Linked DNA regions of Homo sapiens. The protein of the gene in region 3 purifies or fractionates together with the protein of the main gene of each other region. This does not show direct contact. Each region holds a gene or a part of one and is shown on either strand. Other genes may lie near its edges.

The links.
Region 1: the proteins of GABBR1 (region 3) and TPD52L1 purify together in Homo sapiens (affinity purification with mass spectrometry; one large-scale study listed by BioGRID and IntAct). This does not show direct contact.
Region 2: the proteins of GABBR1 (region 3) and CASR purify together in Homo sapiens (affinity purification with western blotting; one study listed by BioGRID). This does not show direct contact.
Region 4: the proteins of GABBR1 (region 3) and KCTD16 purify together in Homo sapiens (affinity purification with western blotting, with the first as the bait; one study listed by BioGRID). This does not show direct contact.

The regions. Positions count from the first base shown.
Region 1 is NC_000006.12:125,247,371-125,252,223, forward strand, and holds part of TPD52L1 (tumor protein D53), read left to right. Parts: intron 1-911; coding exon 912-1,013; intron 1,014-4,651; coding exon of another isoform or gene 4,652-4,670; exon of another isoform or gene 4,671-4,853.
Region 2 is NC_000003.12:122,259,766-122,264,618, forward strand, and holds part of CASR (extracellular calcium-sensing receptor isoform 2 precursor), read left to right. Parts: intron 1-1,762; coding exon 1,763-2,647; intron 2,648-4,853. UniProt on the Homo sapiens protein: G-protein-coupled receptor that senses changes in the extracellular concentration of calcium ions and plays a key role in maintaining calcium homeostasis.
Region 3 is NC_000006.12:29,615,297-29,620,149, reverse strand, and holds part of GABBR1 (gamma-aminobutyric acid type B receptor subunit 1 isoform a precursor), read left to right. Parts: intron 1-4,853.
Region 4 is NC_000005.10:144,204,971-144,209,823, reverse strand, and holds part of KCTD16 (BTB/POZ domain-containing protein KCTD16), read right to left. Parts: intron 4,434-4,853; exon of another isoform or gene 3,783-4,433; intron 3,496-3,782; exon of another isoform or gene 3,436-3,495; 5' UTR 3,110-3,435; coding exon 2,278-3,109; intron 1-2,277. UniProt on the Homo sapiens protein: Auxiliary subunit of GABA-B receptors that determine the pharmacology and kinetics of the receptor response. Increases agonist potency and markedly alter the G-protein signaling of the receptors by accelerating onset and promoting desensitization.

The DNA of each region.
Region 1 (4,853 bases), about 96 Mb from region 3:
AAATTTCTCATCCCTATAGGTAGCATCACTGTCCTTCCTGTCATGATGCTCACAGCCTCAGGACAACCTTTGGTCTTGCTCTTATTTATCACTTACCATCTCCTGTTGAATCTGTCCATTCTATCCCTGTAATCCATCATACCTCTTTCTTTTCCTAGTGCCACTACTCCCAGTTCAGAGTCACAAAAGGTTGTCCCTTTTGATATCACCCACTCGTTCATCTACTATTTATTGAGTTTCTTCTTTATCCCTTTGTCAGAGACCAGGGACACAAAGATGAATGGCTTCCTTGCCCTCAAGTAGTCAAGTCTAGTATGACATAGGCTTATCAACAAATATTCACAGTATATATTCCTAAAACTGTTTTGAAAAAAAGTCACTATATTATCTTCAGATAATGTGCTTTTATTATTCCCAGCTATAAATACTAGAAAAGTAAGCTAAATAACTAGCTGTGTTTTGCCTTTTTCTGGCTTATTTTACCCAAATTAACAGTGTAAGCTTAGATGTACCTTCAAAACCTAAACCTGCATTCTCTAATTTCTGTGTCATCCTTGATGCCTAGAGCTGTCATTGACAAGTGTCTGTTTTAGAACTAATACACTTCAAGAACAACATTCTGCTCACTGAGCAGTTCCATTATTTGTCATGAAAGAGCTGCACATTCAGATCTGTATTTGTATTTGTATCTGTATATACTTCCTAAATTCAGATTTAATGGTCTGACTTTCCTTCTGATGAACAGCAGCCAACCCATCATCCCCAGACAATGAATGGAAACAGTGGTTTTGTGGATCTTCTTCCTAAATCTGTTGAGGAAAGGACATTTTCAAAGTAAGGAGTGAGAAGGAAGATGAATTGTTTATGGGAGATCATGATATAAAAACCATGTTGTTCTGTTTTATTTCTAGCTACAAGAAAACACATGAAACCCTGAGTCACGCAGGGCAAAAGGCAACTGCAGCTTTCAGCAACGTTGGAACGGCCATCAGCAAGAAGTTCGGAGACATGAGGTACTGTGGGAAAATACCATGGGAACGGCGCTAAGCCCTTGGCTTTCCGATTGAAGGGAGCACTAGCTATTAGCTGCTCATCTCAACATATGTATTTTTTTATTTTAATGGATAAAAATGTTATATGGCTGATATGATTGATGACTAAGATAAATTTTCACACTGGGACATTTTCTGCCTGAAGGTCAGGCTTAGGTGGCCTGGTCCCAGAGTTGCTGTTTCTACTAGGACCCGACCTGGTAAAAATAGAAGATACAGGGTAGTGAGGCAGATTTGAAAAGAATGCAGCATGTGCAAATTCTTACTAGCTGTAATATAAATGATAAATTAAAACATGCATTTAGTGGAATGCACTCCCATAAACTATTCTAGATTGCATATTTGTATACATCCATCTAGTATATTTTTTCTGTGTTAAATAGGTACATATTTATCCTTTTATTCCATAAAGGTACCACACATATACACTTCTGGTAGTTTTCTTTCTTCATTTTCTAACTATTTTGTGAGTATGTTAAATATTTATTGCACCTTCATTTTTAATGAATTTATCTCCCAGTGCGTAGCTATAGCAATGCTTTTAGATAAGTAACCTTGCACATTTTCATTATTTTCAATATTTCACTGTTACATAAAATAAGGGTGACCATCAAGGTTGATTTTGACTTGAGAACCAAAAGTTCTCACTGGAGGCACCAGGAAAAAAAAAATGTAGTATTGCCCATAGTTTTTCATATTATATACAATATTATATACAATATATTATATACCATATTATATAGAGGTATTACTCTTAGTTTTTGCTTATTTAAATACCAGTCATAGTTTTATTTTGCATTTGGCTGATATGCCTTGGAGGATTTTTCTTTAGAAATCAGTTTCATTTTTCCCTCTATTCTTTAAAAACTTTTCGAGCACATTTTACATTTCTTCTTTAAAAAAAAAAAATCTCTGCGTATTTATTTTACTGGATTCTTAAACTGTTACTTTTTTATTAAAAAGAAAAAGCTTTGGGCTGGGCACAGTGGCTCATGCCTGTAATCCCGTCATTTTGGGAGACTGAGGCAGGTGGATCCCTTGAGGTCAGGAGTTAGAGACCAGCCTGACCAACATGGTGAGACCCTGTCTCCATTAAAAAATATATATATATACACAAAAATTAGCCAGGCATGGTTGTGTGTGCCTGTAGTCCCAGCTGCTGAGGAGGCTGAGGCAGGAGAATCACTTGAACCCAGGAGGCAGAGGTTGCAGTGAGCCCAGATCACGCCACTGCACTCCAGCCTAGGCAATAGAGTGAGACTCTGTCTCAAAAAAAAAAAAAAAAAAAGAAGGAAAAGCTTTGACACTGAGAGGCAAATATCTTCCTAACTTTACACTTATAGATACATCTTTATAAATTATATTATTAAATTTTATTTACTTCAAAAATTGCTGGACTGTCCACAATATTCATTCACTATTTTAACAACTAGGCATTCACAAGGACATGTGCATGAATCTGAGTACATTGTTTTATCTTCATTTTTACTAATGCCACAATAATAAAAAGTAATTGAAATTCTTCAGAAGCAGGTGTGATAAACAGGTAAACCTTCTGGATTATTAATTACCCCTAATTTTATTACAAATAAAATTTGTAATAATTTTAACGGCGTTATAACATTTATCTAAACTAATTAAATAATCCTTTAAAATAGGAAACCCTCTATAACCTGTTATACCCAAGAAAACATATTTTCCCATGTTTATAAAATTGATTCTCTTCATACTGTGTTGAAATCTTTCACTTGAACCCTGGGAACTCCAGCATGACACTGCTAACTAGAATAGTGCTTCTGCATCTTTAGGAGATCTTACAAACACCTCTGAAGCTTGTTTAGAATACATATTCTTAGGTTGCACCTCTCAGAGGTTGTGCTCAGTAAGTCTGAGGTGGAGTCTAGGAATCTGCATTTATAACAAGCTTCCAGATAATTTGGCTTCAGAGGGTCAGTTTATGAGGAAGACAGACATAGCTTAGCTCACCTGTATCTGGGGTTTTCACTAATAAAATGGAGATAAGAATAACAATGTCACTGGACTGTTATAAAAGTAGCAGAAGAAAGTCTGACATGTATTATGCACTCAAAAAATTGCAGTTTTTTATCTTTAAGTGACCAGCTCAGTTACAAGATGGCCCCACATGGTAGAAATTAGGGAGAGTACATTAACAGGAGCCCACTGTATTTCATAAAGGCCCTGCTCATTGTTTTTCCCAATAGTGAAGAATGAAGACTGTGTTTCACATATGCAATATGTTGGCATTCATATTCAAACACTAATTGGGTACAATGTCAAGGTTGTATTGACTGCCTTTCCTCCCGTTTCAATGTGGCTTTGTCTAGTATAGTGGATGGCCTATTTTCCAGGACTTCCAAACTTTCCATTTGTTATTATCCCATGTAGAGGGTACAACATTTTCATTATAAACTGTGGCTAAAAATATTGGAAAATACAATCTGTGTTGCTAGATAATCAAATACAATCCTGAAATATTTTGAAGAGTTTGAAAATTTCAGAGCTTTATTTATATAATATTTTATGTGTATATTTCTCTCAAACTATATCTAACATTTGTATATAAATGAGAATAACTCTTTGTGAAAGCAACAAGTTTTACAAAGATTTTTACTTTTAAATTATGCCCAAACAAGTAATATAAATAAAAGTCATTTTGAAAGTGTTTAAACTTAATAAAAGACCTTAAATGGGAAAAAATAGTAAGCTTTGATTGTTTGTTCAAAAACTAATGTGCCAATTTGTAAATATGGGGAATATGTTAAAATTTGGTCACAGACCTTTTATTTTAAACTTCTTTTTGGTTAAAAGTGTCATATTAGTCTACATTTTTATTAGTTACACTATAACATTTTTGTGCATTCTGGTAACAAATTTCTGAATGTATTCAAAAACATTACCAGCAAAATTCAGATAGCTTGGAAGAACAACAGTACCTCTCAGTTTTTCTTTAAAATAACTCCAAATTAATATTTACAGATTTTGTAAAACCTAGAATTTGGGCCTTTTAATAGCTGAAAAAAAAGCTTTATGTTAAGATTTAATTTGTATGTTTTGTAAAAATAAGTTATATTTTTCTGAGCTAAGTAAGATTCTCATTTTAACCTGATTGTCATGGAATTGCCCACTCTCTTTCTCCATCCATAAAATAACATTGTTAATACCCACTTAACCAAAATATTTCCTGTGAAGTTAAAATGAGGTCACACTTAGGAAAGTACTCAGAAGAAATCCAAGCGGTTGGAATCATTTTTCTAATAACATTGGCATCTTCTGGGAACTTCTCAGTTAATTTGTTCAAACTGATCCACTGGGGACAAAATGTTTGGAGAAGGCATGTCATTTTATTACAGTCCAATCATTGTTATATACTTATAGGAATAACAGAAGCAAAACTTGAGTTGGTAAAATGATTTGTCAGAGACATTAAAAAGTCAGTGTAATCAAGAGTGGTAAATGAAGCTACCCTGTCTGTGCTCTGGGGCCCTTGAAAGGGGACCACCAAGGGCAGTGCAGTGTTTCTCTGCCTCCTGTTTGCTAACTCTGCTCCTGCTCTTCTCTCCTGTGCTTCCGGGCTGCAGGTCTCACTCCATCGGGTAAGCGCCACAGGGCTGCGTGTGGGGCTTTCCCCACTCCCTTGCTGCCCCTTTGCTTTCCAGGGCTCCCTGTTTCTTTCACACTGTGCCTGAACCAACAAAACTACACTCTGTTTTCCAGACAGTTCCCGTGACCAGGAAGATAGTTTATAGGGCACTTAATACATTTGAACTTATTGAAGTACAT
Region 2 (4,853 bases), on a different chromosome or scaffold from region 3:
ACTACAGGCGCCCGCCACCACGCCCGGCTAATTTTTTGTATTTTTAGTCGAGACGGGGTTTCACCGTGTTAGCCAGGATGGTCTGGAAATTTTTACTTAAAAATATTGGACATGGAAAATTAATTGTTTTAAATGGTGAAAGATATTAAAAAGGCATTCTCCCAAATACCTTTGACTTGTTTTCTTAAGAAGTTTAAAATCTCTCTGGAAAAACTAGAGAACACAAGATATTAAGCTACTTCATTTCCTAGAAGAAATTCCATTTGTGTAAAAATGTTTCGTTCTTCAGAAAAAATGGTCCCATAACTTGGAACTTCCTAAGTGGTGAGCCATGATGACACAGAGTGCTGCAAATGAGCTGAAGCCGGCCTCATCAAAGATGTGGATCTCCTCAAGTGTTGGGGTGACCAGGTGGGGCCTGAGTGGTCAGAGCACTCCCACCAGGGTTGATCAGCTTCCTCTGTTTGCTCCATGTGTTGCCATAATGTGAAAAGAAGTGGGAAAGCTCTGCACTAACTAATGCTTTACATGGTATTTGGCTACTTCTTCAAGCAACGATCTCTTAACATCAAGGGCAAGACTTTCTTCCCTTGGTAGTCCACACCCTTGCTCAGATGCAGAAGTGGCTATGTCTTAGAGAGTGCAAACATGTCAAGACAGCTTCTCCAGGGTTCCTGTTCAGCCTCTTAAGATTTTCAAGACCCATATCAAAAGCCTGTCAAGCAGGCTCAGCCATCACCTATAACTGAATAAAGGAAAGGGCTCTGGAAGGTGCTTCCCAATGGAAGATTCTTCACAATGCGACCTTCAAAAGTGGGTCTGCTAACAATGAGTTAATGGGTGCAGCACACCAACATGGCACATGTATACATATGTAACAAACCTGCACGTTGTGCACAAGTACCCTAGAACTTAAAGTATAATAAAAAAAAAAAAAAAGTGGGTCTGGCCATAAAATCAATCCAACAATAGTGGGATGGAGAGGAAGGGAGGTTTTTCTGATGATATTTAATTACATACGTCATTGTTATTGTGATACAGGGGGATTGAGCCTAGTGGTCTTAGTGGTCTAATTGAGCCTAAAAGAAACAGTTCTCAGAAATGACTGCAATTAAGCTTAGTTTTTTCTAAAGTACTGGGGTGCGGGGAGGAGAGGGAGGAGGAGGAATAACCAGAGGAGGGGAAGAGAGAAATTAGGCAGAATAAGAAAAGGGAATTCCCGGGGACTCCTCTGAAGAGCCTTAAGTTTATAATCCATGGGGAACCCGATTCCTTCCACAGGCAAATTATGAACAAAGTGTTTATTGCAGTAAAGGGAAGTTAAACTCTTCAGATCAGAAGCTGAGCCCAACAAGCCAAAGTTGTGTACATGGATATATTATAACCAATGAGGCAGCACAGAGGAGGTTAGAGAAGACATGAAACGGTGCATAAAGACTCTTCTTGAAAGGCTAAGTACATCCCACTATTGTTGGGTTGATTTTATGGCCAGACCCAGTTTTGAAGTTAGCATTGTGAAGAATCATCCATTGGGAATTGGGATGCTCCCTCAAAGACTGAAAGGTGCTTAAGTGCTCACTCTGGAGTGGAACAGATGCTGCTTTTCCTTACCCTTTCTTTCATCCTGTATACAGTGAACAGCATAGTTGATAAATGAGACCAAGGCATGCTCAGAAAGCCACCTCCACAACAGCCTGGAGGCTCACTCAGCACCTCTTCACTCACTCACTCACTCATTCACCATGTTCTTGGTTCTCTCCAGGTCAGTTATGCCTCCTCCAGCAGACTCCTCAGCAACAAGAATCAATTCAAGTCTTTCCTCCGAACCATCCCCAATGATGAGCACCAGGCCACTGCCATGGCAGACATCATCGAGTATTTCCGCTGGAACTGGGTGGGCACAATTGCAGCTGATGACGACTATGGGCGGCCGGGGATTGAGAAATTCCGAGAGGAAGCTGAGGAAAGGGATATCTGCATCGACTTCAGTGAACTCATCTCCCAGTACTCTGATGAGGAAGAGATCCAGCATGTGGTAGAGGTGATTCAAAATTCCACGGCCAAAGTCATCGTGGTTTTCTCCAGTGGCCCAGATCTTGAGCCCCTCATCAAGGAGATTGTCCGGCGCAATATCACGGGCAAGATCTGGCTGGCCAGCGAGGCCTGGGCCAGCTCCTCCCTGATCGCCATGCCTCAGTACTTCCACGTGGTTGGCGGCACCATTGGATTCGCTCTGAAGGCTGGGCAGATCCCAGGCTTCCGGGAATTCCTGAAGAAGGTCCATCCCAGGAAGTCTGTCCACAATGGTTTTGCCAAGGAGTTTTGGGAAGAAACATTTAACTGCCACCTCCAAGAAGGTGCAAAAGGACCTTTACCTGTGGACACCTTTCTGAGAGGTCACGAAGAAAGTGGCGACAGGTTTAGCAACAGCTCGACAGCCTTCCGACCCCTCTGTACAGGGGATGAGAACATCAGCAGTGTCGAGACCCCTTACATAGATTACACGCATTTACGGATATCCTACAATGTGTACTTAGCAGTCTACTCCATTGCCCACGCCTTGCAAGATATATATACCTGCTTACCTGGGAGAGGGCTCTTCACCAATGGCTCCTGTGCAGACATCAAGAAAGTTGAGGCGTGGCAGGTGCGTCCTTCACTTATATAGCAATTTGCTGTATAATAAAGCAGAGTTGGGCTGCAACTCCAGGCAAGAAAAATAGTGGTCATTTGAAAAGGGCAATATTTAAATGAAGCCACTAAATGGAGCTTTGGATTCAAAGTACCTTTTTTAAATCTTGAGCAACTGATTTGAACAAAATTGATAGTAATTTGATTATCTATTTAAAGCCTTGAGTCAACTGTTCTTTAGTCCAGTGATTCAGAATAACTGAAGTATGGTCCCCAAAAGTTTTCAAATATCCCAGAACAGATTTAGTAATGAGTGGGGTATTTTTCTAATGTCTAAATTATCAATATTGTTCCCTTGTGAGTAAGAAGTATTTTTTGAGTACCTATTACATTCCATATACTAAGTGGCATAAAGCTAGTATTATTGTGTTTAGCCACCACTTTTGCCATTACATTACTGACAGCCTATACCAAGCCACCCAGCAGGTCAGCTAAGCACAGCTTAGGACAAAAGCAAATCAAAGACACAGAAAACAAAAACTCTTTGTAAAAAGATTTGATATTGAGTGTTTCAAAAAGAAGCACTGAAGTGGTTATCATAGAAAAAATCAGAACTTAAGAGGAGTTCCCACACTTGTTTAGCCTTGTTTTGTATTTTTGAATTACACACAGGAGAGACATCATAATCTTTTTCATTTCAAGAGCTTATATCCTAAATAGCTGTTCGGGTCTTGCATATGTGCCTTATTTTTTTCAATCAGACCATGTTTCACACTCCTTTTGTATTTTCCTTAGTTCCAAACTGACCTATCAGAGAGATTGCATGACAGTGGAGAGGGCGGGAATTCCTGAATTTGAATGGAATGTGCCAGCCTCCAGCTCCCCCATTTCCTAGCTGTGTGATCTTAGGCAAACCATGGCTGTAAGTCACAGTGTCTCCATCTGTGACACAGACTTAATGTCTAGCTTACTTTCCACTCAATGTTCTTTTGACTTAGGTTCATGACATTAAATGACATGATATATGTAAAAGCAATTTGTAAACTTTCAAGCTCTAAACAGATGTGTGATTATTATAGTAGGATTTCAGTACAGCTCTAATTAATCCATGAATTAGGTAAAAATGATAACTAGAACACCTTTGTATACAGAACCCAACCACCACAAACCCTTTGGGAAGGATACCAAGAAGCAAAAAGCACACAACTTGTATCAGTCACTGTAGAGATTCTCATGAAAGACAAGGAGTGACTGTCTAAGTTGGTCAAATAGGCCAGAATCTTCAAGTTCTCAGCCCTTCTTATATGGGAACCTCTTACCCAACCATCACTGTTGGCTAAAGTTTCTAACTTCTGTGGGGTACTCAGAGCTTCTTTCTTCACACGGAACCCCTACCTTGCCAAGATAGAGGTGCTGTAATAAAGGTCAGGCACTCTAAAGTCTTCAGGAGTGATGATGCTAAGGTATGGGGTTTTAAGTAGGAGGAGTAAGGGAGCAATCTTCTAGGTGGTTGTTACTATTGTCTTTTCTTTCTTACCTCTCACGTCCAATGCAAGGAGGACCTCAGTTCTTGAAAAAACTGCAAGACAAGAGTAGGGTTGAAGGAAAAACAGGCTTCAAGGGGGAAACTTGGCAGTTCTACTCTTCAATGGCTCCTCTTCCAGATAAGGAAATAAAATACAGATGGTCAAGACCAGACCTTGGACCTGTGAGAAAAAAAAAAAAGCCATGACAGGCTACAGTCACAACTGGGACTTTTAGTTGTGTAATAGAAAGCCCTAACCAAATTGGCATAAACAAAAAAAGAGGAAATGTAGTGAGTGGGTCATGTCACTAAAAATCTCAGAAGTGTTCCAGGTACAGCTAGGTATTTTCATCTCATCTTTCTGTTCTTCATTCCCCAGGGTTAGCAATTTTCAGCTTCTGTAGCAGCTTGAAGCTAGGATCTCCTTACTTCCCAAGATATCCTGTAAAAGTTCCAGAAACCACATTTATTGACCATTCCTAAGTCATGGATCCATCCCTGATGCTAGCAGTCCTCCAGACTACATAGACTTAGAGTAAGGGGGGAGTGAATCTCCAGTGGGAAGTCAGGATGCCATTACCAAAAGGAGGAAGAAATAGAAGCAAAGCAGCCAACATTCAAAATGTCCACTACACAGACACTTCACCCAACCATGGCCCAGGTAAAGATATGTTCTCCTGACTCTTACATGGTCTGG
Region 3 (4,853 bases):
GGTCATGCAGCTACTCAGCAGTCCAGCTGGAATTGAATCCTAGTTAAATCTGGCTCCAAACTGCTCTGCTCATCACTTCCCATGGAAAACCATGAAGCCTGACTAAAAAGTTTGTACTTTTATCTGCTAACACTGTTTAGCTACTGGCAATTGCTGAGCAAAGGAGAAATAAGATTTAGGAAGTTGACTCTGGTGGTGTGTTGTGATGAAAGATCTGCTGCCACATGGACTCTGATGATACACACTGTTTTGGGACATTCTAAATGGACTCTATGTTTTAAGGTATGTTAGTTGAAAAATACAATGAAAAAATTTTGGAAGATCACTTTCCTGTAGAGTACCCAAGAGGTGAGTCATCCATAAAACCTGGGAAAGTATTGGAACTGGCTACCAAAGCCAGAAAGACTTGTTGGTGCCCTGAGCCCAGGACTTGCCAATCGTTGCTTCTGTCTTATAGCAGGGAGCTAGAGGAGGCTGACAGAAAACAGGGATTTGGCTGGATCTAGTGGCTCACACCTGTAGTCCCCAGCACCTTGGGAGGCCAAGGCAGAGGATCACTGGAGCCCAGGAGTTCAAGACCAGCCTGGGCAATATAGTGAGACCCCCAGCTCTAAACAAAAAGAGAGAGAGAGAGAACAGAGAGATGGTTAGGGACATAGAGGGACACCTGAGCATTGGGGTGGGAAGACTTGGAAGGTCCCTTTCTGACTTTGTGTCTAGAGAAAGATGGTTCCTGCTTTTGAGGCCATAGGGCTTCCAGTGGGACCAGCCTAAAATGCCAGTGGGGAAGCCAATGTTTTCTGAAGAGGATAGAGCAGTCTTAACAATAGGTTAGGGGCAAAAGAGATTATAGATTAATCAAACAGCACAAATAGAAGTGGATCAAAGCAAGGGTTGGACCTAGGGGGCCGGAGCCATGGAGACTTAGAAAAGAAGCAGAGTTGCTTTTATTCCCTAAGGATGGCCTTATGTTTAGATCAATAGTTCTCAAACTTTAACATCCGTCAGAACCACCTGGAAAGGTAGTTAGTTCACAGGTTATCAGGCCCTTCCCCTGGAAATTCTGATTCAGTAGATCTGGGCTAGGGCCTGAGAACTGACATTTCTAGCAAGTCCCTGGGGATGCAGATGTACTGGTCTGGGGATCACACCTCGAGAACTATTAGTTAGGGTAGTGGTTTTCAACTACTACCCTAGACTCAGACGCTATACTATCTGGAGGCATTTTTGGTTGTTACAGTTGGGGGTAGGGGATGGGGAGGGATACATGCTCCTGATATCTAATGTGTAGAAGCCAAAGATGATTCTAAATATCCTACAAAGCACAGCCCCTGGCAACAAAGAATTATCTTGCTCAAAATGTTAATAGTGCAGAGAATGAGAAACCCTAGTTTAGAGAAAACATCTTTAGGGGCAATATGTGGAAATGGAGAGTGGGTTAGAGTGGTTTTAGAGAAATGTAGCTGTGGGCTAGAGGGGAATGTGGGAGGTGGCATCCTGGAGATAAGATTGTGAGGAAATCTTGATTGGGGTAGAGATCCCATCAGACCTAGGACCAGTACAAACTAAAAAGCTACCTCAAGATATACATTTTAGCCCACTGTCAAGCATCCATTCTTGAGAGCCAGACAAGGCTGTTAAAAAAATTAGGTATAAATTTGCACTTGGTTGATTAACTAATTGCTGTGGGTTGAGGGGTCTTTATTGTTCAGATTTCCTTAAGCTGCAGAGTAGAGTGTCTCTTTGACAATCTATAACTGTATCTTTACTGACTCAAGGGGGAAGCATTCTACTCTTCTTTACTCTTGGGGTGGCAGGAGCAGTGGTGCCCCCAGTGGTTAGGCGTGTTAGTGGTAGTGACCTGGCGTGAGCACAGGGTCTGACCACCTGAGCAGGGGACCGCATCGTGCTGAGCAGATTAATCCCTTTCTTTCTGGGTGATTTTTTTGATGCCATATTTACCTTGAACTGAAGATTGGATAGACCAATCTTTCAATTTGAAGCCAAAAGACTACTCAAAGTATTAGCCTAGCTGCTATTTGTGCAGGTGCTCTTAGAGAGAGGCAGTCTCATGTACAGAGACTGTGTAGGGTGGCTGGTAAGAGTATGGATTAGCTCTGCTACTCATTAATAGTATAACTTTTTTATAGGCAAGTTATATAACTTTTCTGTGCCTCAGTTTTCTTATCTCTAAAATGGGGATAATAACACCTCATTGGATTGTTTGAGGATTAAATAAGGTAATATAGTTTCCTCAGGAAAATGCTCGATACGTCCTAAGGACTGTATACATGTTAGCCACCATCATCGTTATCATTATCATCATCATCCTGTGTAAGGAGGGATCGATATCAATGAAACATTTCAACAAAAGAGTTAAGAGGACTCAGTGATTTGAAAGGGTCTGATGTAATTCCAAGGCTTCAGTCTCATTTACTGGGAGCTGTTTGGGAGTAAGAAAAAATTGAGCTTCATCTTGGATATTTTGATTTTGAGATTATTCATCATACATTAAAAATGCCTCAGAGTCAGTTAGAAATATGGACTTGAGGCTGGGCGCGGTGGCTCACGCCTATAATCCCAGCACTTTGGGAGGCTGAGGCAGGTGGATCACAAGGCCAGGAGTTCAAGACCAGCCTGGCTAACATGGTGAAACCCCGTCTCTGCTAAAAATACACAAATCAGCTGGGTGTGGTGTCGTGTGCCTGTAATCCCAGCTACTTGGGAGGCTGAGACACAAGAATCGCTTGAACCCAGGAGGCAGAGGTTGCAGTGAGCCAAGATCGCACTACTGCACTCCAGCCTGGCAACAGAGCAAGACTCCATCTCAAAAAAAAAAAAAAAAAAAGAAAGAAAGAAAGAAAAGAAATATGGACTTGAAATATTGGGCTGAAATTATAGATCTGAGTATCAATAACAAAGATGAGGTTGAGAGTCAAGGAAATTCACGTAGAGAAAATGTAACTTACTTCATACCCAGCATTTTTATACATGTTCTAATTTCATTTCATACTATTTTAGATAGTATTATTCTCATTTTAAAGCTGAATAACCAACTAGTGAGGTTTAATAACTTGTTTGAGATTTCATAGCAGGTAAAATGATTAGAATATGAATTCATCCATTTATCTATCCAACAGACTTTTTTTTTTTTTTTTTTTTTTTTAGTAGAGACGGGGTTTCACCGTGTTAGCCAGGATGGTCTCGATCTCCTGACCTCGTGATCCGCCCGCCTCGGCCTCCCAAAATGCTGGGATTACAGGCGTGAGCCACCGCGCCCAGCCTTTTTTTTTTTTTTTTTTTGAGGTAGAGTATCCCTCTGCTGCCCAGGCAGGAGTGCAGTGGTACAATCGCTGCAGCCTTGACCTCCTGGGCTCAAGTCATCCACCCACCTCAGCCCCTCCCAAGTAAGCTGGGATCACAGACATATGCCACCAAGTCTGGCTAACTTTTTTTTTTTTTCTCGAGATAGAGTCTTGCTCTGTTGCCTAGGCTGGAGCACAATGGTGTGATCTCGGCTCACTGCAACCTCTGCCTCCTGGGTTCCAGTGATTCTCCTGCCTCAGCCTTCTGAATAGCTGGGATTACAGGTGCGTGCCACCATGCCCAGATAAGTTTTTGTATTTTTAGTGGACATGGGGTTTCACCATGTTGGTCAGGTTGGTCTCGAACACCTAACCTCATGATTCACCCTCCTCAGCCTCCTGAAGTGCTGGGATTACAGGCGTGAGCCACTGCTCCAAGCCAAGTCCGGCTAATTTTTTTTTTTTCTGAGATGGAGTCTTGCTCTGTTGCCCAGGCTGGAGTGCAATGGCATGATCTTGGCTCACTGCAACCTCCGCCTCCTGGGTTCAAGCGATTCTCCGATTCTCCTGCCTCAGCCTCCTGAGTAGCTGGGATTACGGGAGCCCACCATCACACCCAGCTAATTTTTGTATTTTTTTTTTTGAGACAGAGTTTCATTCTTATTGCCCAGGCTTGAGTGCAATGGCGCGATCTTGGCTCACAGCAACCTCCGCCTCCCAGGTTCAAGCCATTCTCCTGCCTCAGCCTCCGGAGTAGCTGGGATTACAGGCATGCGCCACCACACCCGGCTAATTTTGTATTTTTAGTAGAGACAGGGTTTCTCCATGTTGCTCAGGCTGGTCTCGAACTCCGGACCTCAGGTGATCCACCCGCCTCAGCCTCCCAAAGTGCTGGGATTACAGGCGTGAGCCACCGTGCCCAGCTAATTTTTGTATTTTTCATAGAGACAGGGTTTCACCATGTTGGCCAGGCTGGTCTTGAACTCCTGACCTCATGATCTGCCCGCCTTGACCTCCCAAAGTCCTGAGATTACAGATGTGAGCCTCCGTGCCCAGGCCAAGTCTGGCTAATTTTTAAAAAAATTTTGTAGAGTTGGGTCCTCTCTGTTTTGCCCAGTCTTGTCTCAAACTCCTGGGCTCAAGGAATCCTCCTGCGTTGGCCTCTGAAAATGAAAATGTTGGGATTACAGGCGTGAGCCCCCTGTGCCTGGCTGCCTTTTTTTTTTTTTTTTTTTAAAGGCAGAGTCTCACTCCATCGCCCAGGCTGAAGTGCAGTGGCGTGATCTCTGCTCACTGCAACCTCTGCCTCTTGAGTTCAAGCGATTCTTCTACCTCAGCTTCCCAAGTAGCTGGGATTACGGGAGCCCACCAACACACCCAGCTAATTTTTGTATTTTTAGTAGAGACGGGTTTCACCAGGTTGGCCAGGCTGTCTGGAATTCCTGACCTCAGGTGATCCACCCTCCTTGGCCTCCCAAAGAGCTGGGATTACAAGTGTGAGCCACTGTGCCCAGCCTGACTTGTTTTTTATAATGCCTTTTTTTTTTT
Region 4 (4,853 bases), on a different chromosome or scaffold from region 3:
ATATATACACACATATAAATATATATATATATATATTTCCCCCTAAGCCCAGGAGGAAGTTGAGTTCCTTTGTGAAAAGCATCTTTGCATGCAGCCAACTCCCTTCTTTAGAGCATCTCCCATGGTTTCGTCCCATTAACCCGAGCACAACAGCTTGATGAATTAATGCTTATATAGGCACAGTTGGCAGCTTCTAATTAAATAATTATGGCTAAGCAGCTGCACGGAAGCTGTTATGCACCCTAGAAAGCCAGCTGTCAGTTTTATTGGTCCTAAGACAGAGGAAGAGTTAACACTTAGCTCTAGATGGTGGGTACAAAGGGGAAGTATATCATTTGCAAGATATATGCTGCTGGTATGAAGTTCCTGTGCATTTGTGCTAGCCTGTCCATGGAGAGATGGAGAACAAACTGTTCCTCAGCAATCTCTCAGCAATTCAACAAAGAAAGAAGAAACGACATAGTCAGGAGAATGGAGCCTGTCCAGATAAATCTAAAGGGAAATCGTGTTGGACAGATGAGCCTTTGATGAACACAGAAATGCCACTGGTAGACAAATAAATTTCAGTGTGTGGGTCTCATTTATGTAAGCAAGTGACTATAAATCCAATGTGGTCTTTTTGGAGGGTATAACTGGTATGTTTCCATTTATTTGGTTGAAGCTTCTTACGATGCTATGTTTTCAAATATTCAAAATCGGAGAACATGGTAAATATTACAAAGCTGCATTGGAACTATCTTTAAGATGTACTTCTCCAAAAAGTTTGGAGAAGATATTTCTGCTTCAGAATTATAGATAATGTCATATTCCTTTATAGAAAGCTAAAAAGCCGGAATCTTATCTCTACACTAGTGGGAAATTTACCAAAAGGAAGAAGACAATACCTGTCCACTAAGCTCTAGCATAAAGAAAGATATAGATTGTAGATAAAGGCCACAGATAGGATTAATGAACCAAATGATGTTTGTTATCGCACATCAATATACTCCTGAACTGATTACTGATTTCGTTTTTTTCCACAGGTTGTTCTGGCTATGCAATACATGTGTCTTAACCAAATGTGTGATAGCTTAGTAGAGAATGACTTGGCTTCCCACTAGCCTCTCTACCAAGGTTCCCGGCACCATTGCCAAATGATTAAACATAACTAAGGAAAAAAACCAGTCCAAGAAATTCAGTCCTACTTTTATGTTTAAAGAAATTTAGATATTTTAATCCTGAATTCTGGATTTGTTTTAGAATAAGAATAGAGGAAATCAAATGTTAACACTGGAAACATATTTCTTGTGGAATTTACTTCACCCAACTCCTGGGCCTGTTGAAAATCGGCAGTTAAAATCAAGTACCAAAGAGTGCAGGCTGATTTACTCTTTTCCTTTCAGGGATCAATGGCTCACAGTTTATAGTTTAGAATAATGCCATATCATAAAATGAGGAATCTGCAGGGTATCTTCATTTAAGCAAATGAACTGACCTCTAAGAACCCCTTACTTAAAAGGCTTCAGTATCATTGTTTCATTTCTTCCCTCTCTGGCTTCCTTTTATGTCAGTAATTCTACCACCTCAGCTGTCTGAAGGTGTTTAAATGTGATTGACAATTCTGAAGGATCTAGTTCCTTTTACATAGATCTTAAATGAAGTTCAGCTTAATTAAGTCTGCAGTGCAACTCAGGTCTCAGTACAAAAGGCTTCAGAATCAAACAGCAGATTTGTAAAACCCTTAAAAGCAAAATTTAGACTTGGGGGGAGCAGGGGGCCTTTCAGCAGTCTGTACTGCCATCTAGCCAAGACCACATTATTCATTGCAACATCCATTTGTGTTTTCAAAGCCCCTGATGAAAGCAAGTCTTCAGCAACCAGCTTAATAGACCTCAAAGTCCAGCTAAATGAATAGACAGCAGTAATTCACCCACTGAGTATACCAAGCTCCTGTGGACAAACAGCCAAGATGTAATAATCAACCTTATTTTCTCAATTCAATATCTGGCAAAAACAAAAAGACATACATGCTTGTTCCATTTTACATATTGCATATACCAATATCATTTGCATTTTATTATTTTGGAGGCCTTTGAATATTCTGTGACCTCATTGGATAAAAGTTGCCTTAGGTTAGACATGAGAGCTGAATTATAACCTCTAATCCTCTAACTACAACTCAAGAGTTAAAAAGAATTCCAAACCATGTTCCTTAGGTATGGAGAGAACACACAGACCATATACATTTGTGAAGAGCATTGACACACATAAAAAATTAAAACAACCCTTTGTACTTACGGTAGAAGACATATTCAGTGTAGCTTGACCAGATCTTGTCATCTGTATATTGGTTGATGAAAGATGCTGTCACCGATGAGTTACAGGCCACCATGTGGAATCCACACTCTGACAACATATCAAAAGCCCTTTCCAGGTGCTTGAATTTGAGATAAAATCTGGAGGTGTATCTTTCTGGGGCTCGATCAGGGTCTCTGCTTTCATTCAAAGTTTCTCCAAAGACTTCTTTTGCCAAGGAAATCCTTCCACAAACCAAAATCCGGGGAACTCTCCGAAACTTGGCATCTGCCTGTCCCTCTCTGCCCAAGGTGCAGGATCCTCTGTAACCCACAGTAATGAAACCCCACTTGCGGTCGGCAGGGAGCAGGGAGGAAGGGGGGCAGATTCTTGTGTCGCTTCCTTGGGAGGCATCTTCAAAGTCACTGTGGCAGAATTCATCTGGGCTTTGCTTGATTTCATCGGGGGTCAGGAGTTTGACCAAGTCTGGGAGCTGGAAGTATTCAGCTTCCCTTTTCAGTCTTCCTTTTTCTGGAAAGTGATCAGGCAGGACCACCTGCCTGTCCCTGAGATAGTCCAGAATATAACGGAACAAGAATCCATCTCTGTCAATGAAAAACCTTCCCTTGGAGTCCTTGGCTAGATCATTAGCCGTGTCTCTCTTTGGGGAAAACATTTTCCACAGGAGGGAATGAGGGATGCTTATCAATGTGGAATGGCGAGTAAAATAAACTTGACCCCCGACATTCAGCTCTACCACCTCAGGGAAGGAGTTGGGAACTGCGGACCCTTGTTCTCGAGGATAATAACGACTACAGTTTCCACTCAGAGCCATTGTCCCTTTCTTCTGCTGCTGCTATTTTGATTTAAAGGTGCAATCCAATGGAGTCACAGCCTTATCCTTTGGATCAACTTGTAAGAAAGGGAAAAGGATGCTAACTTATTAAAAAATGACCTCCTCTTATCCCAGTATTTTTCCCCCAAGAAATCAAAATGTATAAGAGTCCACAGGTGAAGTGATGCTGAAAAAGTAGTTTAAACCCTGGATGGTGGATGGTAGTGAGCTGCTACTTCATAAAATATAATCAACTCGTCTATATCCAATCTTCCATCAAGCTCACATGCAAGGCAGGCCAATTCCCCAGTTACTCAGATGTCCGTCTGAAGGAAAAGAGAAAAAATTATTTCCTCAAACCTGGAATGAGTCAGAAAAAGAGTCCTCTGGAGAGAGAGAGAGGGAGGGAGGGAAAAACAGAGGGAGGGAGAGAGAGATTATTTTACATAAGCAGCTCTGGAACTACTGATCTCAGCCATTCTTCAATTAAATCATAGCTTCTCTCATGCTATTTTGTGCCTACATGTTTATCTATAAGCCTCTGTCTCCAGCAATTAGTATGAAAAACAATTTACTTGTAAGTCTACATTAAAAAGAAACATGCAATTTTCAACTTCCAAATGGGAATTTTTTTTTCAGCTGGACAGGAAAAGCAATAAGTCTTAGAGCTTACCTTAGTGAGTGCTGGAGACCCAGTTCTTGTGAAAAAAATAATAATAACCATTTGTAAAGCAATCAAAATCCACAGCCAAACTGAGTCTGGATCTTGTCAAATCCCAAACAGGTAAACGACCGAGGTATCAATGAAAAGTGCCAGAGAGGTGTGCTCTTGGAAAATAACTATTATATATATGCATTTATATAAATGCCTATTTGTATTTATGTATGTATGTAGGTACATATGTGTTCATTCCGTATCTTAAGTTAAAACAAGTCGCAAAAAAAGTTAAGCCCTGATGAGAGGAGGTTGGGTTGAAGAAGTAAAGCAGAGAAAATATTCAACCAAAGCTTCCCCAGGGGAAAAGAAAAATGGAAAAAGAAATCTTTGGAAAGGATCCTTAGAAGAGAGTTGCAAGAGGTACCAGGACTTAGAAGCTTTTCAGAAAGCCCAGAAGCAGAAAGATGGAGAGATGTGCCCTGCTAGGGTCCCAGGTAGCCACCCCACCTGCCGGCAAGGGCAAACGGACTCCCATGTTCCCAGCCAGGTGGGAGCCGGTGCGAGCCAGAGGCCAACGCAGCGCAGAGATGCCGGCGGGGGGCCCGGGGCTCCGGCTTCTCTGGCGGCGGAGCTGGGTGGTTCCACAGTTCCCAGTGCAGTTCGGATGCTGTTGTTTCAGCAGTGCAGGCAAGAAACCATCCAGGGAAATGACTATTACATCATCTTAAAGGAATATGGCTTGGAGAAAGCGGAGGCAGCTCCGAGTCACGTCCTCCTCGGTGACAGGTTGCCAGGACTGCACGGGGACGCCGCGCTCCGGCGGTGGGCACGCGATTGCCAGGCGCGCGGGGCTTGGGGCGGGGACGCAGTGCTGCGCAGCCACTTCCCTCCCTGTCCTGTCCTGGAGTCTGGAGTTTCCAAGGGCCTTTTCCTTCTTCCTTGTCTTTACCTCCATCACCATCCCACAGCAAATCCCTGCCCCCTACCCAAGAGGTAAGTTGTGAGATAAACACAACTGACTTTTTATTTGAAAAATCTACAGATCTTCCCCCCTCCCCCCTCCTCGTTCACGGAATTCCTTCCTGC